2 separate regions of the Homo sapiens genome follow, and region 2 is linked to region 1. Evidence: fine-mapped expression QTL. A gene starts in region 1. The other region holds a variant in brackets. All regions are shown on one strand. Distances are between the middles of the regions.

Region 1 (15,632 bases):
GTATTTTTAGTAGAGACAGGGTTTCACCATGTTGGCCAAGATGGTCTCGATCTCTTGACTTCATGATCTGTCCACCTCGGTCTCCCAAAGTGCTGAGATTACAGGCATGAGCCACCGCACCTGGCCGTGTCTTTTTTCATAATTCTTCATCTTGAGTCCATTTCCCACTAACCTGCTCAGCATTTCTGTACTATCTTCCATTTGTTTATGATATATAAGCATGAGCATTTTTATATCTTTATTGAACATTTGGATATTCTTTTTGTGACATGTCTTGTTCATGTGTTTTATCCAGTTTTCTCTTGAGCAGCCTTTCTCATATTTATTTAAAGCAATTCTCCATGTATCCTGGATACTAGTTCCTTGTCAAATATGTGTATTTCACACATCCACTCCTTATCCAGCCATCTGCTCTCTCTAAGGCAGAAACACAACTAACAGCTCTCTAAAGAGACAAAAGTGTGAATAATTCTTTTGGAGGTCATGAAAGAATCTCCTTATTAATCAGTCTACTGCTGTGAGAGCTGAACTCCACTGAGATCTTGTCAGAAGGAAACAAAAAAGGACATCAAATGAGGCTAAAACAAAGCTACATTGATTGCTACACTGGCAAGAGAAAACTGTATCACTCAGTGTTGAGTTCTTAGATCACTCTGAGCAGAAAATGAAAGGACTAAATATGGGCAATAGGAAGAAATACATCATATAAGGCAGAACGCTGAATCCAAGACTGTGATTGCTGGATGAAGTGGATTATAAGTTCTTTTTGTAAATGTTTGCCTTCAGTTTTCTCTTCACCAATCCTGGGAAGCCTAGAGTTAGGTCTGGAGTGTATTATACAGATTCCAGTGGAATCTATATAACAGTGGATGTAGGGTCATTGACTGGTTACATTTATATATTACTGAATAAATTTGGCAATACGTATTTTGCTAAGTATGTATTTTGCTAAAAGTATGTATTTTGCTAAGTCAAAGTAGATGATCAAAATATCTATATTTTGCATGATTTCAATTTATATCACATTCTACAATGTTTTTGTTACATTTTTTGAGCTTATTGTAACTTAGTACACCAATGGTATAGCACTTTGCCTCTTGATGCTAACGTTGCCCCCTCAACAACCAATCGTCTTTGTAAAACACAGATGACAGCAGCTAGGGTTCCCCATCAGCAAGTAAGGAGCCGTTTCTGAACAGGCAATACTAAGAGGATGTCTGAGATCTGACAGGTCAGAGTACTGGCTACTGGAGAAACAAGAGGAAGTTGCTTGTAAAGTTCAAAGGACCAAAGTTCCAAGAAGGTGCTTTACTAGAGAAAAGGTAGGGACCTAGGAAGTTTAATGAGTCACGTGGAGTCTGGAATGTGATAGAAAAAAACAAAGTATCTGAATCGTGTTTCAATAGGACAAGGGTCCTATTGATCTGAGAATTTGAAAAGCCACACAAATTCCTCTTCCACCTCCTTCATTGGCTTGCCTCCATTGTTGCAAAAAAAAAAATCCATAAAAAGTCAAAATATAGCATGCATAAAAAGATACTATAATTTTCAAAACAGAAGATGAAAATTAAAAATTCTGAGCAAATGATAGAACATACACATACATGCATACACATACACATACATGCATAAACATACATGCATACACATTAGCAATAGCCAATAAAGCAGAGAAAAACTATAACGCATAACTGACATAAATTTTTTAAATTGAACAAATAATTTCAGATATAAAAGAACACTTTGAACAAAAAAAATGTCCAGGTTACAGTAATAAAATAACAAATATTTCAAAAATTGAGCAAAATATTTTAACACATACTTTACCAGAAAATGTATGTAAGATGATGAATTTGCACCTGAAAACATTCTTTATGACATTAGTCATAGGGAAAATACAAATCAAAACCAAAATGTGAGATACCACAAATCAAATCTCAAATCTATGAGAATAGCTGAAATTGAAATGGCTAACAATATTGAGTGCTGATGAGGATATGAAGCAAGGGGAAATCTCAAACACTGCTGTAGGGAATACAAATGGTACAGCCACTTTGGAAAACAGTTTAACACTTTCTTGCAAAGCTAAAAATACACATACCACACAATCTCATTTTTAGTATTCACCCAGGTAAAATGAAAACAAATGCCCATACGAAGACCCACATGCTAACATTTATAGCACCTTGATTCAAGATAGCCAAAAACTGGAAAAGCCAACATTTCCATTTGCAGGAGAATGATAAACAAATTGTGGTATAATCATCCAATGAAATTCCATTCAGTAATAAAAAGGAATGTACTACCCATATACCCAACAAAGTAATGCATCTGGAAAGTACGTATTTTGCAAGTCAAAGTAGATGATCAAAATGTCTATGTTTTGCATGATTTCAATTTATATCACATTCTAGAAAAGGCAAACCTATAAAAACAGAAATCAGATCAATGTTTACCAGAAGGTAGGGGTGGGAGAAGAGGCTGGCCACCAAAAAGCATGAAGAAACGTCTCAAGATAATAGACATGTTCCATGTATTAAATATTATAGTGGTTACGTAAATGCACACACTTATCAAAATCTCATCTATCTGTACACTTTAAAAGGGTGGACTTTATTATTTGTAAATTATACCTCAGTGAACATGATTTTAGAAAACATATTGCCAAAGTCTGTTAAACAGTTTATTTTTTTAAAACTCAGAATAAAAATAGGTAAGCATTATGTAGGTGTAAAACAGAAACTAACAGAACTAAAATAAAAAATTGAAATTTTTAAATAAAAAATGACCCCTATAGAGAGTTTAAACACATAATTTTCCATAAAAGAAATGGGGAAAAGTTACCAATGAGCTACGATGCATAAAAGCATAGGCACAGAGGGTTTTGCAAAAGAGTTCTACCACAACTCTAAGAGCTAGTAAGTCCAATACTGCAAACTGTTACTGAGCATTGGAAATGAAAGAACATTTCCATCTTTCTATGTTGGAATGAACATAACACTGATTTAAAACCTGATATTGATTGTCCATTCCTAAAAATTTACCTTACTATACCCACCAGGGCAAAGGTACTAAAAGTAACGTTCATTGAACATTTAAAAATAATATGTATAACCAAGTGAGGTTTATTACAAGAATGGAAGAATTACAGAATATCAGGAAATGCATTAATATAATTCATCATCTTAATAGATCTAATTTGAAATTACACATTCTTCTCCACAGATACCAAAAAATCATTTAACAAAATTCAACACCTAATCTGTTTTCTTTTTAATTGATGAGATGGGGATCAATTGCTACTTTCTTAAAAGATGAAGCATGTATTATATAATGGAGAAACATTGTTTCAATTAAGGTAGGACAAGGACAAAAAAACCTACTATTGCTGCTACTGTTGGACCTTGTAATACAAGTCTCTGACAAATGGAAGAACCAAGCAGAAACAATTAGAGGCATAAAAATTATAAAGAAGGAGGTAAAAATAAATCTCTGTTAAGAACATATAAAATCATAACTTGAAAACCTCAGAGAATATAAAAAATAATTTTCAATAACAGAATAACAAGAATTTGGTAAGAATTCAGTAGGAATAAAATTAACATACCAAAACCATGAGACTTTGTATATACAAATTATAACCAATACAAAAATGCAATGGAATAGGAGATCTAATCAAACTATATAGCCATAAAGACAGATGTCGACACAGCTATTTCAAAATAGGACATATCCTGGCAGATTAAAACACAGAAGAATTAAACTAATCAATAAAAAACTGATTTATATAACCTTCCATCACACATAAATTTCATTATTGGTATAAGAATTTTACCTTTTTGTTTGCTGACAGAATATTCAAAATTAATCATGTGCTCAGCCACAAAGGAAACCTTGACAAATTCAAAAAATAAATTTTTCAGTATATTTATTTATTTATTTATTTATTTATTTGAGACAGAGTCTTGCTCTGTTGCCCAGGCTGGAGTGCAATGGCACAATCTTGGCTCACTAGAACCTCCGCCTCGTGGGTTCAAGCAATTCTCCTGCCTCAGCCTCCCAAGTAGCTGGTATTACAGGCATACACCACCACATCCCGCTAATTTTTGTATTTTTATTAGAGACGGGGCTTTACCGTGTTGGCCAGGCTGGTCTCAAATTCCCAACCTCACGTGATCTGCCTGCCTTGGCCTCCCAAACTGCTGGGATTACAAGCATAAGCCACCATGCCCGGCAAGGTATATTTATTACAATTTATTTTTAACAAAGGAAAAAAACTTTAAACAGTGATCTAAAATTGATAGCTGCTTGGTAATTAAGAATTTCTCCCAGACAATCCCTGAATTCTTGGTGAAATCAAACCTAAAATTAAACACTGTCTAATAAGAAGCAAAATAGTAAAAAAAGTTACAGGAAACGTATGAGATATAGCAAACTCAGTGCCTAAAGACAAATATATGGTCCTAAGTCTACACATATTAAAGAATTTAAAACTATTTTAAGAAGTTCAAGGGATACAAGCAAAAACAAAAGGAAAATAATAAAAATAATAACTCAAAATAATGAAATATGATCTTGAAAATAATATTTTCAAATGGATAAATACCTAAATAAATGGACCTTGAAAAGACCAACAAAACTGATAATAAACCATATTAAGAAAAAACAGAGTACGTGAATCTACAGCAAAAAAAAAAAAAATCAATCCTCATCTTCTAGTGACACAAATATTTAACCATAAAATTATGTCAGGATTTGGTTCAGAATAATTCAGAGGATGAGCTTTGAAGCTGGATGAAGGATACATGGGAAGTCATTATACTACTGTCTATTTTCAAAATCGCACATTTCACCTTGAAGCTACAATGCTATTTTTCTTTTTCCCTTTATCATTATTTATTTGCTCTTGTCACCTGTTAAAAGAAAAAAAAATTATCCTACTACTTCTCTCATCATTCTACTGAAAATGCTATGGCCAAAATCACCAATGACATTCTAATTGCCAAATCCAGTGGCCTTTCCTTTTCTATCTCTTATCACATTCTGTGTGATATTTCTGCATATGTGACATGCACATCTAGGTTTCAATTGCTATCTCAAGTCTGATAACCCGTTGTCTATTACTCCCTGAATGCACCCAATCTCATTCAAGGTTGATAACCCTCTAATCTCCTGTCAAGTTCCAGAAGTAAATTTTTTCTGTATATTGCCTGTTCTAAGCACCTTCAGCTTAACCAGACCAGTGCTTACTATATGGCACCTTTGACTAGCTGGAATGGCAGGTGGAATGGCAGCTGGAATGCCATCTGGAATGGAATCTTTGACTAGTTCTCCCTAGCTAAAAACTTGATTTCTTTTTGACATGTATCTTACTCATCCTTCACATCCTATCTCTTTCTCTAATTTGGCTACATCTTTAAATCTTTACTGCCACTACCAGTTAAAACCAAAATGAAACAAAAGCCTTTCAGCACAGGAATTCTACTCTTAAGAATCGATGGCATAGAAATAAAATTATCAACATGAAAGAGCATAATAGGAGTTTCCCATATACCCTCTTGGTCCCCCCACTCCCCTAGGCCCCAGGGTCAAGGGTCAAACCAATAGTTAATTTCATGGCAGCTGGCAACCCTAAAAACAAGCTGACCCTGATATGGGATTGGTGAAGGGTGGGAGTTCATCCCCACAGCTACCAGAAGTGTTAGCTGCTGTGGCTTGCAGTTTCTAGGAGATTTAGGAATATCTCTTGAGAAAGAAGGGAAATCACACCCTAGGGGCAGCCAGATGCTCAGTGTAAAGGCTAGGCATTCTTGCCTCTATAAAGAATGACTCTGAAGGACCACCCCAGAGCCAGAGCACCTCGTGGGGTCAGCCAGGGCTTCTTCTGTTGCACCCACACCTCAGTTCAACTTCTGCTCAAACCTGCTTCCCTTAAACAATTACAGGTGTGGTTCCCAAAAGTGCTTCACAAAAAAACTCCCTGGATACAAATTCCTGCCTCAGAGCCTTTTCCCAGAAAACCCAAATTAATACTATGGTAATTGCTGACAGATCATATACTATGTGCCAAGGACTCTTTCAAGTGCTTTATGTCTCTAAACGTATTTAATCTTTACAAAATCCCTAGGTAGTAGGAAGCATTATTATCTCTAAGACCACACAGCTACTGAGTGGTAGAGCTACAATTTAAAACCAGGATCCTTAGTCCGTTTTCTTAACCCTAAAGCCTTCCTCATAAGATTAAGTGTATTGTTGAGTATTGTGCTTAAAAATGAAAACGATAAATAATAATAATAAAGTATACAAAGATGTGTAGAGAGATCTAGAAGAAAGACAGCTTGACATGTTTGAGGTAATAAAAAAAAGTCTATTTTGAGCCAAGGAAAGTCACCTGCATTGAGGTCAGAAAATACGCAGAGTGAGGCCTTTGGAGATGAAGTTCATCTTAGTTGTGTAAAAGGCAAATTTTTTTTTTTTTTTTGGATTGTAGCAGAAGTCCTCTAGCTCTTGACTCTGAGGCCTACCATGTTTGCCTACTCAAGGAATCGAAAACTGTTTTATATGCCAAGTTAGAGGCAATTCTGTCAAGAAATGATTGTCCATGCCTTATAAATGAGATTGGGCTATAATGGCTCAGTGTATCTATCAGGCCAGTAGTTTGGTTTCAGGATGATGGTTTATTTCCTGGATGACTCCCTAACTAAATGTCACTGGGACCTCCCAATGGGAACACACATTTCTTCAAACATCCTAAATTTTGAGTGGTCATTCCCTGTTGTGATACTAGCTAGCTAACTATTTATCTCAATGATCTTGAAATCCTTTTCCTCTTCACTGGCCCCTACAAAATGTTAACTAATCTTGGAGCGTGTAATTCTAACTCCTAAATTGGACCTCTTTAGTCATGCACGTCTAACTTAATTCAAGGCCTCTAATGATCCCTGTATGTGACAGCTCTTTCTACATGTGATGTCAGATCCCTATATCTGATAGCTCTCTCAGGACTTCTGGACCCCTTGGTTCTTTCACTCCACTAGGCCCCAGGGTCAAGGGTCAAACCAATAGATGATTCCATGGCAGTTGGCAGTCCTGACAGCAGGCTGGCCCTGATAGATAACGGAAGTGAGGAAGGGTGAGAGTTATCTATCTTCTCTGTTTTATAGACTACTTCAGCTTCTGCTGTTACCAATGCCTCAGCAACCACTGAAAGTTCAGATATCACCCTTCTTGTAACTAATCAAATCAAGGAAGAGATCTACAAAATAGTGGTGGTGGTTCCAGCTAGAAATTTTCACTCACAATGGTGCATGTTTCAAATAGAAGTATCCAGGGTATGAACATACTTTTCTCCTCCTGGGCCGTAGTCTTAATGGTGATGGGAATCACCTTAGATAAATGGGTTGAATTGATTTCAGAAGATGAAAGAGCCAAGATGAACCACAGTCCTTGGATGATGTGTTGCCCTGCTCTTTGGCCAGAAGGTCAGAACTGTACTCTAGAAAGAGACGGGTGGAAAGGAAGGGTGTGTCCTTAACTTGGCTTTCCTTAACTTGCATTAATCTCACCAGTGTACCCATTATTTTCTGGTGCAGCTTCTCAAGTTGCAGTGTTCTTCCTTCCTTCCATAGTCAATACAGTCAAGGCAGATTCCAAAATCTCACCATTTAGGTGTTCTGGAGAAAAGTTTATATGTTCACAGCCTTAACTGCTGGGCATTTGAGAAGTCTCAGCAGTAGCAGCAGGGTGATCCACACAACTAGACATGTGGGTAAGAAAGAAACGTAACTGGCATTAAGTAATCTGTATTGCCACTAGATGATGGAGTGAATTGCGGTATTTAACAAGAATAGAGTTTGAAGAAAATAATAGAAGAGAAAGACACATAGAGAGACATCAGGATAGAGAAAATGTTTTTGGTTCTCTTATTCAGCTTAAGGTTCCCCTGCTTGTTATTTTCCAACTTCTTTCTTATTGTTTAATCAAATCTTTCACCCTATTCCAATTTTCACCTAGAGACTTCTGGACCCCAGGTAGAAATGAGTCTAGAAGAAATATCTGTCCTCTCAAAACAGCTTTTGCTTTCCAACAGATGACCTGAAAGTGGTCAGGATTATGATGACGTCGAGCCTTGGCCTTTCCTTCCTCCTTAACTTAATCCTGGGTATGAAATTCACCTATCTGATTCCTCAAAATAAATATATACAACTCTTCACTACCATCCTCAGTTTCTTCTCAGGTAACTTCCTGGCTCCCCTAACACAAGCTTGTAGGTGTACTTTGATGGGTGGGTTCAGGCTGCAGTCTCTGAAAACTATATATATATATATGTAGCTTCTGAGTTAGATCTACCATAAAAGCAGGATCAGGATCAGTCTTTGGGCAAGGTGTAGTTGGACCGGGTGGGGGTTGGGAAGTCAAGTGTATATGGAATGAAGACTTGCATCAAGGAGCCAAAGTTCCTCAGAAGGGACTTTTTTCTTTTTCTTTTTTTTTTTTTTTTTTTGTCTGGACATCAGGTATCTCTCTGCTCTGGGCACTCATACTATATCACAATAAGCTGAAGCAAGGTCAATCCATGCACTTCTCTAGTTATAGGATCACCTGGATCATGTATACTGCTTACTTAAATGTTTTCTTCTTGTCTGTCTGTGGTGAGTGTCTCCAGGGCCCCTGAAGGGTGTTAAGAACCAATCCATCCCCGACAGAGGGAAGGGTAAAAAGATGAGAATAGAGGGAAAAGTGCCAAACCTTGCATTTTAAAAGGCTGCAGCTCACCTGGATTCATTCTCTGATGACAGTTCCTCCAAGAAGAGTGGGAGGTCAGGCCTATGTGAGATGTCTGCTGTGCCTGGCCTCAGAGGGTAGCTCCCCATCTCCGCCTTTTATTTGCCTTTCACACCCTCCCCGCTTTGGGGCAGAGATAACCACCAAAGTCATGACCAAGGTGGGTGTCTGAGACAGAATGCTCAGCCTCTGTGGAGAGGAACAGTGACCTTGGGAGTACAGTGTAGTGTCAAGGCAGTTTGAGGGCAGAGAGAAACAACATCTGATGCTAGATGGCCATCTACCGAAACCGAAGTCTCCCCTTTCCTAAGAAGTCTTTAAAATTTCATTTGTAATTACACTTCCTAACCCAAAAAGAAGCATGTTCTCTTTCAAAAAGAATCCTCAATTTTCTTAAGCTGAGCAGAATTTAAGCTATTGTACATACACTTCCGGTTTCTTCCACTAAAGCATTCACCTCCCAGATGGCTTTCGGTAGTTAAAAGGGATCCACTGGGCTTTGGGTCAGGGTCTTCAGCCAAATTGGAGAGAATTGTTTCTGACTCTCCATTGTCCCTTCATCCCACTCCCTGGAATCTCTTTTCCCTAGGAGTCCTCTCTCTCCTAGAGTGCAAGTTGTCTACCAGTAGCTGTACCTGCCTGAACATCCATAAATCTGACAACGAATGTAAGGAATCTGAGAATTCTATCGAAGATATTTCATTACCAGAATGCACTGCAATGCCTCGTAGCATTGTCCGTGCACACACTGTGAATTCCCTAAACAAAAAAGTCCAAACACGTCACGTAACCTGGGCTCTGTGATTTGGCAATCTATTTCTTGCAGTATATGCTCATCTTTATGGAAAAAGCTTTGTGGGTGTGTGCTGTGTCTCCAACCATGTTGTCTCTATTTGGAATTATGGTTGGGGTTTGTAAAAAGATCTGGAAGATGGTTTTTTAAAAAATCCTGGCCTGCTGAACGAATAGTTTCTTCTGCAACATTTGTTGTTAATATAATAAATATTATCATATAAATAATACTTTCTGTATTGTTAAGTCTATACATCACAAACACTTATAATGATATATAACAGTTGTATTGTGAAATATTTCAAACATACATAAGAAATACAAAATGATGATCAAACACCTATGTACACATCAACCCAACTTTATAAAATTTTAACATTATTTCCTGGAGAAGTTTTTCCGTTAAATTTATAGATATAACTGATGTTCCTCTAAAAACTTCTCCAATTTCATTTCCATCTCTTGTTTCCTATCATAAAACACTTTTAAGGATGCGTTGCTGATGATTCTACATTCATGTTGACATTTTCACTACAAATTTATACATCTATAAAAATTATATAGACCAGCTTTTCAAATGTTTGAAAGTTGATCAATATTACACTGTAGAGATCATGTTGTATTTATTTTCATAAATTGCTGAAATAAATCTTCTAATTATTTTAGAATTCCTGAATCTATCTATGTAAGTAAAACTTGGTTCCTTCATGCCTTTTTGTGGTTCATACTTTGTGGGGCTAAGTAATATTCCATCGTAAGACTGTACCACAGTTGGTTTATCTATTTCACCTACTGAAGGATATCTTGGTTGTTTCCAAGTTTGGGCAGTTATGAATAAAACTGTTATAAACACCTGTGTGCAGGTTTTTGTGTGAACATAAGCTTTCAACTTTTTTGGGTAAATACCAAGGAACATGATTGCTGGGTTATATGAGAAGAATGTGTTTAGTTTTGTAAAAAACTTCCAAACTGTCTTCCAAAGTGGCTATACCATTTTGCATTCTACCAGCAATATATGAGAGTTCCTGCCGTACCACATCCTTGTCAGCATTTGATGTTGTCAGTATTGTGAATTTTGACCACTTTAATAGATGTGAATGTGTCTTATTGTTTAAATTTGCAATTCTCTAGTGATTTATAATGTGAAAAGCATCTTTTCATATGGTTACTTGGCATCTATGAGGTATCTGTTCCATTCTTTTGCCCTGTTTGTAATCAGCCTTTTCATTTTTTTGGTGAGTGTTTAAATGTTATTTGTATATTTTGGATAACAGTCCTTTATCAGATATGTCTTGCAAATACTTTCTCCCAGCCCGTGGTTTGTATTTTCATTCTTGACAACGTCTTTTGTAGCACACTGGTTTTTAATTTTAATAAAGTCCAGCTTATTAATTCTTATTGTGCCTTCAGTGTTCTACCAAAAAGTCATCATCATACTCAAATTCATCTACATTTTCTCCTGTCTTATCTTCTAGTTTTATCTATTTCCATGATTCATCTTGATTTAATTTTTTTGGAAGGTATAAGGTCTGTGTTCAGATTTCTTTGTTTTCATGTTGATGTCCAGTTGTTCTGGCACCATTTATTGAAAAGCCTTCATTGAATTTCCTTTGCTCCTGGGTCTATTTCTGGACTCTCTGTTCTATTCCGTTGATCTATTTGTCTTTTTTTTTTCACCAAAACCACATTGTCTTCATCACTACAGCTTCATAGTAAGTCCTGAGATCAGGTAATGTCAGTCCTCTGACTTTGTTCTTCTGAAATATTATGTTGGCTATTCTGGGTCTTTTTCATCTCTCTATAAACTTGAGAATCCAGTTGTCAATGTCCACAAAATAACTTGCTGAGATTTTTATTGGAATGTGTTGAAACTGTAGAATAAGTTAGGCAAAATTGACATCTTGACAATATTGAGTCTCCCTATCCATGAATATGTAATATATATCCATTTACTGAGTTATTTGATTTTTTATCAGAGTTTTGTAATTTTCCTGGTGGATTTTATTACAGTTGGTGCAAAAGTAATTGCGGTTTTCAACCATTACTTTTAACGACAAAAAGCCACAATTACTTTTGCACTATAGTATTTTGTTAGATTTATAGCTAAGTATTTTAATTTGGGGGATGCTAATGTAAATGGGATTGTGTTTTTCACATTTCAGATTTCACGTGTTCATTTCTGGCATATAAGAAAGCAATTGACTTTTATACATTAACCTGTATCCGGGAGTCTTGGGTTTTTTTTTTTTTTTTAATCTTTCAGGTTTTCTATACATACAATCATGTCATCTGTGAACAAAAAGTTTTATTTATGACTTCCCAATTTGTATACATTTTCTTTTCTTCTTGCACTTTCAGCACGTCTAGGATGATGTTGAAAAGGAGCGATTAGAGGAGACATATTTGCTTTGTTCCTGATCTTAGTGGGAAAGCTTCTCATTTCTCAACATTAAGTATGATGTTTAAGTCAATTTTTTTCTAGATGTTCTTTATCAGATTGAGGTAGTTTCCCTCTATTTCTTGTTTTGGGAGAGTTTTTATTATAAACCAGTCTTGGATTTTGTCAAATCTTTTCCTGTATCTATTGATATGATCATGTGATTTTTCCTTGTTAGCCTGTTATGTGATGGGCCACATTAGTTGATTTTCAATGGTGAAATATCTTGTTGAAGATTTTTGCATCTACCTTCATGAGAGATGTTCTGTAGTTTATTTGCTTATAATGTCTTTGTCTGGTTTTGGGTAACACTACCCTTATAGAATGTTTAAAATTCCCTCTGCTTCTGTCTTCTGGAAGAGGTTATAGAAAATTGGTATAATTTCTTCTTCAAATGTTTAGCACATTTCAGAGGAGAACCTATCTGGGCCTTGTGCTTTCTATTTTGGAAGGTTATTAATCATTAGTTCAATTTCTTTAATAGATACAGGCCTATGAAGAGTGTTTGTTTGTTCTTATGTTGGTCGTGGCACATTGTTTCTTTCAAAGAATTGGTTATCAAATTTGTGGCCACAGAGGTGTTCACAAAATTATTTTATTATTATTTTACTCCCCATGGGATCTGTTGTTATATGACCTCTTTCATTTCTGATATTAGTAATTTGTGTCTTCTCTTCTTTTTCTTACTTAGCCTGGCTGGAAGTTTATTAATTTTACTAATAATTTTGCAAAACCAGTTTTTGGTTTTCTTTAATTTTCTTTACTGATTTCCTGTTTTCAACTTCATTGACCTCTCTAATTTTTTTCTTCTGATTATTTTGGATTTGATTTACTCTGCTTTTTCCAGTTTCCTAAAATGGAAGTTTAAATTACTGATTGTAAATATTTATTCTTTTCAATTACAGTTGACCCTTGAGCAACACAGGTTTGAACTATGTAGGTCTACTTATACATGGATTTTTTTCAATAAATATGTTGCAAAATATTTCGGAAATCTGTGACAATTTGAAAATTCTTGCAGACAAGCTGCATAGACTAGAAATATCAAAAAAATTAGAAAACATTGCGTGTGTCATGAATGCATAACAGCTGTAGATACTAGTCTATTTTATTATTTACTACCACATTATATACACAAATCTGTTATAAAAAAGTTAAAATTTATCAACACATGCACACAAACACAGACAATATGTAGTACCAGTTGCAATTGAGAGAAATACAAAAAAAGCAGTGTTAAATAATAACTGCATAAAATTTACTGTAGTACATGTTGTACTACTGTAATAATTTTGTAGCCACCTCTGTTGCTATTGCGTTGAGCTCAAGTGTTGACCATCCACTGAAAACGGTATGACACTAATCATATCCATGTGAGCAGTTTGTCTTTCTGGTAAATTGCATATCACAGTAAAAAGTAATCTCTCATGATTCTTGCATATTTTCATGCTTAGTGCAATACAGTAAATCTTGAATAACACCATGGGACTCATATGAAGTGCCACTGGTGATGCTGAAAGTGCTCCCAAGAGGCAAAGTCATGAAGTTAGAAGAAAAAGTTGAATTGCTTTATATGTACCATAGATTGAGGTTTGCAACTGCAGCTGTTCACCATTTCAAGATAAATGAATTAAGTGAAAGGATCGTAATATAAAATGAAGAACAAATTTGTGAAGCTATCACTGAAGTTATGCCAGCAAATAAAAAAAATGTACTTTTTGCTAAATACCTTTTAATCTCACATTGAAAATGTAGCTTTTGGCGCGGTGGTTCACGCCTATAATCCCAGCACTTTTGGGAGGCTGAGGTGGGCAGATTTCCTGAGGTCAGAAGTTCAAGACCAGCCTGGCCTACATGGGAAAACCCCATCTCCACTAAAAATACAAAAATTAGCTGGGTGTGGTGGCAGGTGCCTGTAATCCCAGCTACTCAGGAGACTGAGGCAGGAGTATCTCTTGAACCCAGGAGGCAGAGGTTGCAAAGAGCGGAGTCCATGCCATTACACTCCAGCCTAGGTGATAAGAAGGAAACTCCATCTCAAAAAAAAAAGAAAGGAAAGAAAATGTAGCTTTCATGTCACTGAAGGATTGTTATAAGAAGGACATACCTGACCGGGTGCAGAGGCTGATGCCTGTAATCCCATGATATGTGTAAGTGGAGATATGCAATCCCTCTTATTAAAAAGAAGGGTGCATAATGATGGAACAATAATACAATCTACCAATGTTGCTTAATGTTTGCTTTGTATATCCCTTTTCTATTCTTTTGTTTTTCAATTACTACTTCTGCTTCTGTATTAGGTGTGCCTCGAATAAACAAACTACACTTGAATTGCTTAGTATCCCTTTTCTATTCTTTTATTTTTCAATTATTACTTCTGCTTCTGTATTAGGTGTGCCTCAAGTAAACAAACTATATTTGAATTGCTTAAGTTAATGCAGCAATCTCTGGCTTTTAATAGATAGAAATGTCAAAGCTTCAAGGCTTTGATAGTAAGAAATTGATGGGTCCCAAAGACTGAATTTGTGTCCTTGAATAGAGGCGCTAAGAGCCACAATGCAAAGAACACATACAGGATACACTGTCAGAGAGAAATGTTAATTGACCACCTCTCCATTCCATGTCTGGCTGCTTTGGAAGGTGTCGATCCCATATCTTTTTGAGATTACTTTTTAAATCTAGAAAATATCTGTGTTCACTTATTTACATCTAGTCATCACTCTAATTCATCAACCTTAGGGCTTTAGGCTAGTATAAGGATTAGGTATAGACTAATATAAATATGGAGAAAGTTACCTTTTATAGATCTTTGCAAAAATAAGAAGAGTTTATCTGCATTTTAACAGAGAAATAAAGGTACGTTTATTATTTCAGGCCATTAGAAGGATCATTATTGCAGCATTCTTAGGAAAGAAAAATATGACTTAATTTTGTCAAACATTTAGAAAGATTAAAAGTTTTCATGTTTCCAGTTTCCACAATGCTCTAATGCAGGCCACCAAGCTTTCATTAACTGAATAAAACAAAACAGCAGGAACAATTCCCCTAGAGTCCCGAGGGAGTCTATTTGGCATTTCCCACTAAACTTCGTAATTGTGACTGATTTTTCAGGCTTAAAATGCTTTGATTACAACAATAGTAATTAACCTCTTTCACTCAATGTTCCCAAGAGTCATTCTCAATCAAATCCCTAAGAGCAAGCATGAGCTTCAAATGTCACAGTTTATTAATGGCCTATTTTAATAGAGAAAAGGACATGTCACGTCCTAGAGTCAGAAAAAGAGGTAGAAGCTCAACGTTCCATTTACCTTATAAAGGATGTGGAGTTTTCAGAATATATACATAAAAATAACTGGTAAGCAAATTCTAAGTCAACGTAATGGCAGATTTTATGGTAGAGATGGACAAAGATGTAATGGACTATCCACAGTAAGTCTCTCAGGCTAGAACAATATTTTGGAAGAATATTGATATTTTGACCTTGATAGGACTACGTGATCCTAAATATCTCTTTCAATCCTGACATTTTTTTCTGGATCTTAAAATGTTCCAGTTACTCAGTTACTCAAAGTAGTAAGAACATTTCCAAACATGGAACATGCTGCTGAGATTAACATAT
Region 2 (15,632 bases), 47 kb after region 1:
CTACACTTTTTCCTATTATGCCACATTTTCCTGACTAATTCTTGAATCTTTAAATGTGCAATTTTACGCAATTTTCTAAGGATCCACAGAAATGTTAATGAGGGAACAAATGCCCCCAAAAATGAAAGCCTAAATTGTTACACACAGGTCTTTACAGTCCAGAGAGCCCAGAGCCTTCCTTCCTAGATATGATGAGGTCCTCAGGGCCCTGAGATAACCTTAAAAAGGCCATGTTCTTTTCAGAAGTTAAGAGGCTCCACAAAGGAGAGAGATGCTACGTATTCAGTTCTTCTCAGAGACGTACATTTGACCCAAAGTATAGCAAAATAGAAAGCTCGCAATACCATTTTTTTTTCCCATAGTGATAATTTTTTATGACAATCATGGCAAATAACAACTCTGTTTGTTTTCAACCACCACAGATTTTGATTGTTTAAAAATTGTATAATGCTTTTGAAAAGCCTGAGTTGCTCAATTTTTAAAATACCAGAGGGAAATCAAGCTCCTATCAGGGTCCTAAAAGACTACCTAGCAACAAAAAAAAAAAAAAAGTAAGACATTAAGGATGTTGTAAAGAAATTAGACAAATGAAAGGAACAATGGGATGATAGGCATTGAACAATGGGATGATAGGTATGAAAATCTTCATTATTCTGCCTTAAGATATCTGTCAGTCTTCAGTGTTATCAGTGATGAAGAGAGGAAGGGGAAAATGCAGGGGAATTCTAAAGCTTTTCTCCTTGTCTACATAGTGTGCTCTATTCTATTTTTGTATTCTATCTCAATAACATTATTACTTGCCTAACCAGATATAGTTTTTGCTCTTTGTGCTGTAGCCAATAGTTTAGAAGTTTATTGTCTGGGCAAAAGAGCAGTAGAGCGAGCGAGGAGAGAACATTAGAGTATTTGTGGTAAAAAGAGTTTCTATTGGTGCCAAGAGCCTATTTCAATAGATATTACTCTTTGGAATTCTTTAATAACTTAAAATCTAATTAAACAGCCCACCTTGTAACAATTCAAAAAATTACTAGAAGAAGTGGAATAATGCACTTTACTAATGTAAACTTCTCTTTTTATCATAGAATTTCACCTTTTTGTTTGTCTCCCACCTCTAAACTACGAAAGATCTTGATTAGGCATTGCGGTGTTTGGGTTTCTTCCCAAGCCCAGCATTAATATTGCAGGAAGCAGTTTTCCAAAACTACACAGATCCTGATAACTGGGCAAAGAAAAACACACCAAGAAAGTACAGGATGTGATAGAAGTCTGCACTGGATATGTGAAAATACAAGCTATAGAGGTTACCATTGCTTACCCTTGTGGCAGCTGCAACCTCATGCTTCAGGGAGAAGCTTCCCCAATTCTGATTTATTTATTTAGTAAATCAATGAGCACCTTCTGGGCTCAAAGGATGAGGTATGAAATAGATATGGCGTCTGACCTCATGAAAAACAAAAGAAATATTTAGACTGGGAAGGAATATGGAGAGGACCAATACTCATGGATTCAGAAACCAGGACCAAGGATGTTAAGGAAGTAAAAAGAGCTACTAAGCTCAACAGCAAGTCAAGTTATTCCATGCCACTTTCATTTGAAAATTACTCTTAAATAGACAAAAACCACTATGCATTTGTAAAGTGTACTTACCAACAGCTTAGAAATGTGAAAAAATTATAAGAAACCAGAATGTTCTTATATGGAACAGAGAAGATGAAGATAATTATTAAAATAACAAGGATACCTTGATTCATGAAAAAATGAGTAGTGAATAAAAATAAAGAAGCAACTACAAGAACCAGAAAAAGTCACAGCCAGATTTGCAAATGGAAATATGTTTAGAAAAAATGTCTTAGCTCTGAGACTTACCACAATTAAGATCATAGCATTTATTTTACTTATTTATCTAATTTTCTGTCTCTCTTAACTATACTGTAAGCTTCATAAGGGAAGTTTTTTGTTGTTAACATTTTTGCTTTGTTTTTGCTTTATATTTTTTGTTTTCCTCTGATATAGCTCCAGCACCTGAAAATTTGCATGATGCACGGCATATGCTAAAGAAAACTATGTGTTAATTAAAAGAATGAATAAATGAAAAAATAATAATAGTAACAGCTTCTGGCAGGTCACTTTTCCCAGGTAGAGAGTCTGAGGAAATGGCCTCCCTTAAAGAGGAATTCTGTGTGCACCACGTTAAAAAATTTACCTAGTTCAGAGATATAAATTAGTTGTTTTAACTTGAAACTAGAGCACTGGTCACAAAATAATATACCAGAGGACAGTGCTTCAGCTGAATTACATAGACATGAAACAGATCTTCGGTGAAGCAGGGCAGTATTCAGAGATTAAGCTGAGTGTTTCATATACATCTTTTCGATAGATCAAATACATGTTTCGGCATCCACTTTTTTGCAGTATTATTAATAACCTACTCTTCAAATGGCTGGGAAAAAAATGCCGTGTATAAAAGACTTCTTTGGGAAAACCTGTAAGAATCAGTTGGAGAAGGAAAGGGGAAACGTTTGTTGTTCTTTTGGATGCTGCCATGAATGTAACATGGCAACAAACAACAAAATAACAACAAATAATCATTTTTCCATCAGATTTTTTTCAAAATATTTAAAATAGGTTACACAGATTATGAATTATGTATCATGGACCTACTTGTTCCATAACAGTGTAGACATCAAAACATTTCTATTATATAAAGTAAAAACAAAGAAAAACTAAGTAGGGAAAGACTGATTGATTAGAGTAATTTGTGTCCAATTGTCTATTACACTGATATTCAAAACATGGTAACAATAACAAAAATGAGTAGAGGTAAATGTTGACTCCCCTCGATTTAACTGTCTTGGCCAGTTTTAACAGTTTCTGTTCTTTGATTTAGAAGATATCTTCAAAGTTGAAATAACTTTGAGAAAAGTAACAAGTTTTTTTTGTTTTTTGTTTGTTTTGAGACAGTCTCACTCTGTCACCAGGCTGAAGTGCTGTGGTGTGATCTCAGCTCACTGCAATCTCCGCCTCCTGAGTTCAAGCAATTCTCCTGCCTCAGCCTCCCGAGTAGCTGGGACTACAGGCACCCGCCACCGTGCCCAGCTAATTTTTGTATTTCTAGTAGAGACAGGGTTTCACCATGTTGGCCAGGATGGTCTCAATATCTTGACCTCGTGATCCGCCCACCTCGGTCTCCCAAAGTGCTGGGATTACAGGTATGAGCCACCTCACCGGGCCTAACTCAAGTTTTATTAACCTTCTTTTTCTCAATTTTTCAAATAATTGACCAGATTCTCAGTTTAGTATGCCTCTCTTTTTAAGAACAGAATTTAGCTGGGAAAGTAGTAGGTCAGGAAGAGCAAAAAAGAGACAGGAAGGAGCATTGTGTAAAAGAGACTAAAATCATAAAGACTAGAATTATAGGGACCATGAGGATAATTTCATTCAATCAAAACTTTGAAATATGAGAATACTGAAGTTAGAAGAAGTAATGTCATTTACCCAAGGGACCACATTTAATAAAGTCAGAAGCAGACTGTGAACGAATCACTCTTGACTCCTCACACAAAGTTTTTTCTATTTCACTCTTATCACAGATATTGGGAGTTGAAAACTTCCGTAAGTTGAGCATCATCTCTGCATTTTATCTTTTTTTTTTCAGAGATGTGCTTCCCACTAGGCATTGCCTGCAGTGGACATCCAAAATCAGACCACAGTGACTGAGTTTACCCTGACGGCCTTTCCTGTTCTTCAGCAGCTTCAAATTTCCCTTTTTGCAGTCCTCTTGTTTACTTATATGCTTACTCTAACAGGAAACGTTGCCATCATTTCCCTAACATGTGCGAATCATCGCCTCCAAACCCCAATGTACTTCTTCCTCAGTAATTTGTCAATTTTGGACATTTTTTTCACCACCTCAGTTATCCCAAAGCTATTAGCCTGTCTCCTGCAGGACAAGAAGACCATATCTTTTGCTGGGTGCATCACCCAAACTTATTTCCTTTGTTTTCTTGGGGACAGTGGAGTTTATCCTCTTGGCAGTGATGTCCTTTGACTGCTACGTGGCCATCTGTGACCCCCTGCACTACACCATTATCATGAACAGCAGGGCCTGCCTCCTACTAGTTCTGGGCTGCTGGGTTGGAGCCTTCCTGTCTGTGTTGTGCCCAACCATTGTGGTGTCCAGATTGCCTTTCTGTTACAAGGAAATTAGTCACTTCTTCTGTGACATCACCCCTCTGCTACATGTGTCCTGTATAGACACTCATTTCATCGAGATGATAAACTTCCTCTTATCTTCCCTCATCCTCCTGACCTCACTGGTGCTCACCACTGTGTCCTACATCTACATCATTTCTACCATCCTGCACATCCCCTCAGCCCAAGGACGTCGGAAGGCCTTTTCCACGTGCGCTTCCCACATCACCGTCATTTCCATCGCTTATATAAGCAACATCTTCAGGTATGTGAGGCCCAGCCAGAGTCATTCAATGGGTTTTGACAAGGTGACAGCTGTCCCCACAATGGTGACCCCTCTTCTGAATCCCTTCACTTATAGTCTAAGAAATGAAAAGGTAAAGGCAGTCTTGAAAGAAGCAGTCAGCAAAATTATGTCCTCATGGCACAGGAGAACTTAAAACTTTAACCAAGCTTTTCTGCTCAGAATGGTTATTTTCATCTCTAGCTCAGTGTGGAGAAAGACAGATTTAGACACCAGAAAATCAAAGGCATATGGGAAGGTATGAATAGGCTCAGTGCCGCATCAGAGGCAAAGTACTGTAGTCACAGTTTAGAAGAGACAATTCAGCCATAGAGAAAATGACATTCCCTGAACTCTATGATTGAACCACTGTGCATTCACAATATCATGGATTAATGAAAAATACAAAACTAAAATCAAAAAACCTAAATTTTGAGCCTGGCTTTATCACCCTTTTTTTTTTTTTTTTTTATCGAGTGACACTTAGCCTATCTGACCATTTGTTTTCTCATCTGTGAAATGGGGACGTTGTGCTTTTTCTTTTTGTTGTTGTAGGCTTAGCTAAGATGGTCTAAGAAATGAAACCACATATAATTAAAAACAAACACTTCTACTAGTTCTTTTCAGATGTTGCAAGCCTTCAACCTTGATAGTTAAATATTATATAATAATAGTAACAATAGCAAGGAAGGAATAATAATAATAACAATAACATAATCCAGGGTTTATACAGTATACTTAAATATATACACATGTATTTCATTTATTCCTCCTAATAACCTTAGAAAGCTGATATCATTATCTCCATTTTACAGATGAGAAAACTGATGTTTACAGAGGTTAAGCATCTTGCCCCAAACTACATCATTGGTAAGTGGCAGAAATTTAGAATATGTGAACTTCAGACTCCTTTAGCACTCCACTATATTATAAAGTGTGGAAGGAAAACTTAAGAGGGGAAACCAAATTAGCCTGGAAGCTACCTTCTTTTTCTGAAGCCAGAAGCCAACAGTTAGACAGACCTGCAGATCAAGGCAGACCAGAAGTGGGATACAATTAGAATGGACTGAGAGGCAATTTGGTTTGAAAGGAAAACTATTTATTCAGAAGCCATAACTGACCATGAGTCTAGACTGATCATCTATAGCAACTGGCGAATATGGCCATCATATACAGAAGATGATCTTAGCATTCATTTGGTTGAGGAAAAAAAAAGTATCAGAAAACTAATCAAGCTTGCTTAAGTAAACTATGTACTTATCATAATAATCAAAAGTGCCATATGGAACCCCAGAAAATAAGAAACATCAAAACCTGCTAAGTGACAAAAAGAAGGAACTAGAAATTTGTAAGGAGCCAAGGTAGGTATTCTCTTCTCTTTAAGTCTCTGATTTCTCCTTAGGTCTCTCTGTAGCTGTATTTCTCTGTATTATTTTTCTCCATATACTTTGTGGTAGGCTGAATAATGGCCCCTAAAGATATCCAGGTTCTGACCTCTGGAAACGGTGAATGTTATCTTATGTGGCAAAGAGATTTTTGTAGATGTGATTAAGTTAAAGTTCTTGAGATGGGGGATTATCCTGGATTACCCAGATGCGCCCTACATGTAATCCCAAATGTCATCGTAAGAGCTAGGCAAAAGGAGATTTTATTACAAAAATGAAGGCCATGTGACGATGAAAGCAGAGAGAGATTTGATGCTGCTGCTCTGCTGGCTTTGGAGACAGAGGAAAGGGCCACAAACCAAGAAATAAACCTCCGAAAGCTAGAAAAGGCAACGAAGCTGATTTTCTCCCACAACCTCCAGCATGACTCTGCCAACACCTGGGTTTCAGCCCAGTGAAACTGTTTTTGGATTTCTTGCCCTCAGAACTGTAAAATAATACATTAGTGTTGTTTTAAGCCACCAAGTTTGTGGTAATTTGTTACAGCAGCCATAAGAAACTAATATACACCTGATTTGCTTTTCTGTCTCTGCAGTGTTTTTTTCCACTTTTCTGTGCACATGGAAGATAGCTGCTTTTGTCATTCACAAATATATGTATATACTCAATTACAGATATATATTCAATATATAAGGGTATAGATATTGAATGTATTTGAATGTATTGATATGTATTAAATTTAAGTGGATACATATTTAAAATGATCTGAGTTCAAAATCCAAATTTCTGGGAGGAGGATATGGTTGGTCCAACTAGAGAGAGATTTCCACTTCTGATTCACTTATTTGTAAGAAGAATGAGTCAGCAAGGTATCAAATCACCGTGTCCACAATGCCAATAAGTAGGTGCTGTGGGAGTAAGCTCTCTAAAAAGAGTGTAGGAATGGGAAAAAGACAGACTCTCTAGCTGAGTGGACAAAGATAGGGGCCTTAAGAATTGGCATGGAATCTCTCAGCAAAGAGCAGGTAAAGAAAGAGCTGTCTTAGGAATGAATTCAGAGTATTATAAGAGAGCACAGTCCATCATAAGATAACGAAGTGGACAAATGTTTAAAGACAAAAAGAAGGTAGACCAAAGTCAGCAAGAGTGAAGGAGTCCCGTAACTTTCTGCTCTGTGCTTATAATCAGAGCCTAATTAAGACAAGGTATCAAAAGTTACCATATTAGGTGATTATTGCTGCCATAACAAATTCCCACCAATTTGGCAGCTTAAAACAACACAGATTTGTTATCTCATACTTCTGTAGGTCAGAAGCCCAACACAGATCTTACCGGGCTAAAATGTCAGCAGGCTGCATTCTTTCCTGGGAGCCCTAGCAGATAATCCATTTCCTACACCTTTGGGTTGTTAACAGAATTCATTTTCTTGAAAGCTATACTATGGTTTCAACCTGGAAATTTGTTTCACTCGAGGAGGAAATTTATTCCACTAAATCTAAGAAATTGTTTGTTTTGCTATGGTTATGACATTGAATTAAGTGGTAGTGACAAAATGCTAAAAAAGACCTTTAACATTGAAACACTGTATACATTTTAATCATGAGCAGTAATACCTTTAAGAGCTTCTTAAAATCTTAAAGCCAAATCACCTATTTTGAAAAGTCATTTTAAAGCTGGAAGAAAATCCACTATACAGAATGTTTAAATAACTTTGTTTGAAGAGTGGGATTATAATTATATCTCTTTTTCCCACATTTTGGAGCTTTTAAAACTTGGGAAGCATATGTCAATTTTAATATTGGAAAAATTAACAAACATAATTTTCATAAACAATAAAATATATATTAGAAGGAGAGTTAAGTTCAGATGTTTCCTCAAGTAGGAGATATGATTTAAAACTTTTCTTTTTATTTTACAGTTAAAGAGAAAAAACTGTCATGAGTTCACTTGAGTAATAGACTTATAAAGAATACGTTCTTACTAGCGCAGAGACTGAAGTTAAAAAAATTTTTTTAAATTTTTTAAAGGAATACATTCTTAAATTGAGATTCCTCCTCCATAAAGATAAATGCAAATCCTTGAAAATGTCTACATCTTAAGAACCCGGTTATTTTTAAAATATTAATATAATTAAATACTCCAAAGATTTTTGTAAACCCTTGGATTTATGAAATTGAAAGTATAAACTGAGGGAGGTGTCCTGAGAAAAACTGAATGGAGTATTCTTTTAATGGTCACATTCCCACTCCACATTCCCATTCCCATCTGCCACACAGAAACTGATCCCCTTCCTCAAACCTTATACAAAAATTAACTCAAGATAGAGTAAAGACCTAAATGTAAAACCCAAAACCATAAAAACCCTAGAAGAAAACCTAGAAAATACCATTCAGGACA[T/C]AGACATGGGCAAAGACTTCATGACTAAAACACTAAAAGCAATTTCAAGAAAAGCCAAAATTGACAAATGGTATCTAATTAAACTAAAGGGCTTCTGCACAGCAAAAGAAACTAGCATCAGAGTGAACAGCCAACCTACAGAATGGGAGAAAATTTTTGCAATCTACCCATCTGACAAAGGTCTAATATCCAGAATCTACAAGGAACTTAACTAAATTTACAACAACAACAACAAAAAAAAAACCCATCAAAAAATGGGCAAAGGATATGAACAGATGCTTCTCAAAAAGGACATTTATGTGGCCAACAAACATAGGAAAGAAAAATCATCATCACTGGTCATTAAAGAAACGCAAATCAAAACCAAAATGAGATACCATCTCACGCCAGTCAGAAAGGTGATTATTAAAATCTCAGGAAACAATATATGCTGGTGAGGCTGTGGAGAAATAGGAACACTTTTACACTGTTGGTGGGAGTTTAAATTAGTTCAACCACTGTGGAAGACATTGTGGCAATTCTTCAAGGATCTAGAACCAGAAATACCATTTGACCCAGCAATCCCATTACCCAAAGGATTACAAATCATTCTACTATAAAGACACATGCACATGTATGTTTATTGCAGCACTATTTACAATAGCAAAGACTTGGAACCAACCCAAATGCCCATCAATGATAGACTGGATAAAGAAAATGTGGCAAATATACACCATGGAATACTATGCAGCCATAAAAAAGAATGAGTTCATGTCCTTTGCAGGAACATGGATGAAGCTGGAAACCATCATTCTTAGCAAACTAACACAGGAACAAAAAACCAAACACCACATGTTCTCACTCATAAGTGGGAGTTGTGCAATGAGAACACATGGACACAGAGAGGGGAACATCACACACCAGGGCCTGTCAGGGGGTAGGGGTGAGGGGAGGGAGAGCATTAGGACAAATACCTAATGCATGCAGGGCTTAAAACCTAGATGATGAGTTGATAGGTGCAGCAAACCACCATGGCACGTGTATAACTATGTAACAAATCTTCATATTCTGCACATGTATCCCAGAACTTAAAGTAAAATAAAAATGTCAAAAACAGAAAACATACGGCAAACTTATGAAGTGTTGATATATTTTTTTAATTCCAAAAGTAATATAGGGCTCTATTTCCAATAAGCAGCCTGAAAGAATTGCACCTTTGAAAAGAAATCACCCTCACAAATAAAAAAAAGGCTAAAATTAGACAGTCATCAAAAAAGAACTGCTTAAAGCCTGGCTAATTAAAAATGGCATAACAAAGCAGAGATAGATGGAATATTTACTAATTCTTTTTCTTTTTTTTATTTCTTCTAAAATAAATGGGATACATGTGCAGAATGTGTAGGCTTGTTACATAGGTATACATGTGCCATGGTGGTTTTCTGTACCTATTGACCCATCCTCTAAGTTTCCTCCCCTCACCTCCCACCCCGCAACAGGCCCTGGTGTGTGTTGTTCCCCTCTCTGTGTCCATGTGTTCTCAATGTTTAACTCCCACTTATGAGTGAGAACATGCGGTGTTTGGTTTTCTGTTCCTGTGTTAGTTTCCTGAGAATGATGGTTTCCAGCTTCATCCATGTCCCTGCAAAGGACATGATCTCATTCCTTCTTATGGCTGCATAGTATTCCATGGTCTACTAAAATTTTAATGAATCATTATAAAAGATGAGTGGTCCTGATGTTTCACCAACTCTTCAACCTGTAAAAGGACCGCAAGAGATTCGCTCAATTTATACTAGCTTTGATATTTTTTTAAAACTGATTATTTTTTTTAGGGTGGTTCACATCTGTAATCCCAGAACAGGGAGGCCAAGATAGGAGGATTGCTTGAGTCCAGGAGCTCAAGATCATCCTGGGCAACATAATGAGACTCTGTCTCTACAAAGAAAATCAAAAAAGTGGCCAGGCACGATGGCTCATGCCTGTAATCCCAGCACTTTTGGAGGCTGAGGCAGGCAGATCACGAGGTCAGGAGTTCGAGACCAGCCTGGCCAATATGGCATAACCCCGTCTCCACTAAAAATACAAAAATTAGCTGGGCATGGTGGTGCATGCCTGTAGTCCCACCTACTCAAGGGGCTGAGGCAGAAGAATCGCTTGAATCGGGAGGTGGAGGTTGAAATGAGCCGAGATCACACCACTGCATTCCAGCCTGGGCTACAGAGCAAGACCTGTCTCAGAAAAAAAAAAAAAAAAAAAAAGAAAGAAAGAAAGAAGGAAAAAAAAAGAAAGAAAGAAGGAAAAAAAAGAAAAGAAAAGAAAGAAAATTTTAAAAGTTAGCTAGGCATGGTGGTGCATGCCTGTAGTCCTAGTTGCTCCAGAGGCTGAGGCGGGAGGATGCTTGAGCCCAGGAGTTCAAGGCTGCAGTGAGCCATGATCATGCTACTACAGTCCAGCCTAGAAGACAGAATAAGACACTGTCTCAATAAAATATAAAATAGAATAAAATAAAATAAAAAGAATCCATAATCCCTGCAGATATAGTGCTGACCAAAATGGTGTATGGCAAAAAGCAGGGTTATGAATCTGAGAGATGAGAGAGGCTAAATATCCTAGCACAAAACCCAACAGGCGAACAGAGCCAGTTTGTATGGGCATAGGTAAACTGGCCTGGGAACGGTAAAGTAAGTTTACTGGGGCTGCTGGACACTTGTGCACAACACGCTGTCATACACAAATGTAATATTGAAAAGTTAAAAGACAATTGATTAAATTAGGGGATATGGTGATGCACACCCAAAAATAAGGATTTAAAGTAAAAATCTTTTCTATAGTTTCCTTATTGTTTTTTCCAGCCTTATTGTGGTGTAATTGACAATTAAAAATTGTATCTATTCTAAGGTGTACAATGTTATATTTGATATATATTAAATATCTGCTGCAAATGTCATCATTTCATTCCTTCTTATGGCTGAGTAGTATTCCGTGGTATATATATGCCACATTTTTCTTTATCTACACATTGACCGATGGGCATTTGGGCTTGTTCTATATTTTTGCAATGTGAATTGTGCTGCTATAAACATGCATGCTCAAGTATCTTTTTCATATACTGGCTTCTTTTCCTCTGGGTAAATACCCAGGAGTGGGATTGCTGGATCAAATGGTAGGCCGACTTTTAGTTCTTTACGAAAACTCCACACTGTTTTCGTAATGGTTGAAACACTGTACACATAGACTGTGGTTGAAACACTAATACATAGACTGTGAAATGATCACCACAATCAAGCTAATTAACATATGCATCACATCACGTTACCATTTGTTTGTTGGTGTGTGATAAGAACACTGAAGATCTACTCTCTCAGCAAATTTCAAGTATACAGTGCAGTATTATGAACTATAGTCACCATGCTGTACGTTAGATCTCCAGAGCTTATTCATCATGCATAACTGAAACTTTGTACCCTTTGACCAACAACTCTTCCTCATGCCCAACCACCAGCCCCTGGCAACTACCATTCTACTCTCTGCTTTTGTGAGTTTGACCTTTTTAGATTCCATATGTGTAAGTAAGATCATTTAATATTGGCCTTTTCTATGGTCATTTATCCCACTTAGCATAATACTCTCCCACCTCCTACAGGTTCATTCACGCTTTTGCAAAATCAGAGGTTTTTTTTTTTCTTTTTTAAGGCTGAAAAGTATTCCATTATATTTACATACCATGTTCTTTTATCCATTTACCCATTGGTGGACACTTAGTTTGTTTCCATACCTTGAGTATTGTGAATAATGATAAAACAAACATGAAAGTACAGCTGTTTCTTTGAGATCTAATTTCAAGTCTTTGGACATATACCCAGAAATGAGCATGCCAGATCATCTGGTAATTCTATTTTTAATTTTTTGAGGAATCTCCATATTATTCTCCATAATGGTTATACCAATTTATATTTCTACCAACAGGCTACAAGATTTCTCTTTTCCACCCGTACTCACCAACATCTGTCATCCCTTCTCTTTTTGATAATAGCCATTCTAACAGGCATGAGATGATCTCATTGTGGTTTTGACTCATATTTCTCTGATGATTAGTGATGTTGAGAACCTTTTTCATATACCTATTAGTTACCTGTATCTCTTCTTGGGAAAAATGTCTATCCAGATTCTTTGCCCATTTTTAATTGGGTTATTTGGTTTTTTGCTATTGAATGTTTGAATTCCGGATATTAACTCATTTTTTTATTTCAATAGGTTTTTGGGGAACAGGTGGTGTTTGGTTACATTAATAAGTTATTTGGTGGTGGTTTCTGAGATTTTAGTGAACCTATCACCCAAGCAGTGTACACTATACCCGATCTGAATTTTTTTTCATCCCTTACCCTCTTCCGACACTTTCCTCTGAATCTTCAAAGTCCACGGTATCACTCTTATGCCTTAGTCCTCATAGCTTAGCTCCCACTTACGAGTGAGAACATGCAATGTTTGCTTTTCCATTCCTGAGTTACCTCAATTAGAATGATGGTCTGCAATTCCATCCACATTGCGGCAAATGCCATTATTTTATTCCTTTTAATTACTGAGTAGTATTCCATGGCATATATATGCCACATTTTCTTTATCCACTCGTTGATTGGTGAGTTTTTGGGCTGGTTCCATATTTTTGCAATTGCGAATTGTGCTGCTGTAAACATACATATGCAAGTTATCTTTTTTGTATAATGACTTCTTTTTCTCTGGGTAGATACCCAGGAGTGGGATTGCTGGATCAAATGGTAGATCTACTTTTAGTTCTTTAAGGAGTCTACTTTTAGTTCTTTAAGGAATCAGCATTTTCCATAATGGTTGTACTAGTTTAGATTTCCACCAACAGTGTAAAAGTGTTCCCTTTTCACCACATCCAGGCAAAAATCTATTTTTTTAAATTTTTTGATTATGGCCATTCTTACAGGAGTAAGGTGGCATCACATTGTGGTTTTCATTTGCATTCCCCCGATAATTAGTGATGCTGAGCATTTTTTCATGTTTGCTGAACATTTGTATATCTTCTTTCGAGAATTATCTATTCATAGCCCACTTTTTTATGGGATTTTTTGTTTTTCTCTTGCTGATTTGTTTGAGTTCCTTGTAGATTCTGGATATTAGTCCTTGTCAGATGTATAGATTGTGAAGATTTTCTCCCTCTCTGAGGGTTGTCTGTTTACTCTGCTGATTATTTCTTTTGCTGTGCAGAAGCTTTTTAGTTTAATTAAGTTTCATCTATTTACCTTTGTTTTTGTTGCATTTGCTTTTGTGTTCTTGGTCATGAAGTCTTTGCCTAAGCCAATGTCTAGAAGGGTTTTTCTGATGTTATCTTCCAGACTTTTTATAGTTTCAGGTCTTAGATTTAAATCTTTGATCCATCTCGAGTTGATTTTTGTGTAAGGTGAGAAATGAGGATCCAGTTTCATTCTTCTACATTTGGCTTGCCAATTATTCCAGCACCATTTGTTGAGTGAAGTCCTTGCCCACTTTCTGTTCTTGTTTGCTTTGTCGAAGATCAGTTGACTGTAAGTGTTTGGCTTTATTTCTGGGTTCTCTATTCTGTTCTATCGGTCGATATTCCTGTTTTTATAACAGTATCATCCTGTTTTAATGGCTATGGCCTTATGGTATAGTTTGAAGCCAGGTAATGTAATGCCTCCAGATTTATCCTTTTTGCTTAGTCTTGCTTTGGCTATGTGGGTTCCTTTTTGGTTCCATATGAATTTTAGGATTGTTTTTTCTAGTTCCATGAAGAATGATGGTAGTATTTTTTATGGGAATTGCATTGAATTTGTAGATTGCTTTGGGCAGTATGGTCATTTTCACAATATTGATTCTACCCATCCATGAGCATGGATGTGGCAACCCACCTCCTTCAAAGAATCTGTGGATTCTCTCAGCTTTTCTAGTATGTTCCTGCAGTAGTTCTTAGAGCAAAAGTCACAATGTGGGTCTCCACATGCTGCTTTGCCCGTCCAAGTGGGAGCTGCAAGTTAGTCCTGCCTCCTATCTGCCACTTTCCCTTGGTTATTAAGTCTTTGTCAGATATATGGTTTACAAATATTTTCACCCAAGCCATAAGTTATCTCTTCCCTCTGTTGATTGTTTCATGGTTAGGCAGAAGCTTTTTAGTTTCATGAATTGCCCTTGTCTAACTGAGCTTTTGTTGCCCATGTGTTTGGTGTCAACTAAAAAATCATTGCTTACACCAAATTGAAAATGCTTTTCCCCTATGTTTGTGTCCAGGAGGTTTACACTTTCAGATCATACATTTAGGTCTTTAATCACATTTGAGTTGATTTTTGATAGGAGGCAGTACTAACTTGCAGCTCCCACTCGGACAGGCAAAGCAGCATGGGGAGAGCCACACTGTGACTTTTGTATATGGGTCCAATTTAATTCTTCTGTGTGTGGATATCCAATTTTCTCAATATAATTTATTTAAGAGACATTCTTTCCCCACTGTGTGTTCTTGGCATCTTTTTAAAAATCAATTGACCATAAATGATAAATTTAATTATGGGGTCTCTGTTCTGCTTCATTGGACTGTAAGTTAGATTTTATGCCAGTATCATGCTATTTTGATTACTATAGGATTGTAGCATTTTTTGAAGTAGGGAGTGTGATGCCTCCAGTTTTGTTCCTTTTGATCAAGATTTCTTTCATTCTTTGGGGTCTTCTGTGGTTCCTTACAAATTTTAGGATTTTTTTCTATCTCTTTGAAAAATGTCATTATAACTTTGATAGGGATTCCATGGAATCTGCAGATTGCTTTCAGTAGTATGAACATTATAAGAATATTTATTCTTGGGTACTTTCCATTTCTTTCTCTTGTATAATTGCATAATTGTTCTGACTAGGATTTCCAAGACCATATTGACTAGAAGTGGCAAGAGTGGACATCCTTGCTTTGTTCCTGATTTACAAGAAATGATTTCACCTTTTCACCATTAAGCATGATGTTAGCAGGAGATCCAAGATGGCCAAATAGGAGCAGCTCTGGTCTGTAGCTCCCAGCATGATTGACACAGAAGACAGGTGATTTCTGCATTTCCAACGGAGGTACCTGGTTCATCTCATTGGGACTGGTTGGACAGTGGGTGCAGCCCACACAGGGCGAGCCAAAGCAGGGCGGGGCGTCGCCTCACCCAGGAAGCGCAAGGGGTCGGGGGATTTCCCTTTACTAGCCAAGAGAAGCGATGACAGCCTGTACCTGGAAATTCAGGACACTCCCACCAAAATACTATGCTTTTCCCAAGGACTTATCAACCAGCAGACAAACAGATTCTCTCCTGGGCCTGGCTCTGCAGGTCCCATGCCCACGGGGCCTTGCTTACTGCTAGTGCAGCAGCCTGAGATTGAACGGCGAAGGG

Direction of the effects. Alleles are on the strand shown, and positions count from the first base shown. SD is a standard deviation of normalised expression in the study named.
As copies of C replace T in region 2, the expression in testis of the gene that starts at base 7,056 in region 1 goes down (moderate effect, 0.66 SD a copy in GTEx).

Evidence for each region. PIP is the estimated chance that this variant, and not a neighbour inherited with it, causes the effect.
Region 2: its variant is fine-mapped to the expression of TMEM225 in testis (GTEx, PIP 0.97).

The regions. Positions count from the first base shown.
Region 1 is chr11:123,877,094-123,892,725 of GRCh38, reverse strand. TMEM225 (transmembrane protein 225) reads left to right here and starts at 7,056. Exons shown (of 4, transcript NM_001013743.3): 1 at 7,056-7,481; 2 at 8,090-8,236; 3 at 8,517-8,651; 4 at 9,374-9,806. The coding sequence starts at 7,301. The coding sequence ends at 9,588.
Region 2 is chr11:123,829,954-123,845,585 of GRCh38, reverse strand. It overlaps the pseudogene OR6M2P. Among named protein-coding and RNA genes, the nearest start is that of OR6M1, 31 kb to the right of the region's middle. RefSeq lists an enhancer at 3,658-4,857. The variant T/C (reference allele first, on the strand shown) is at 8,257.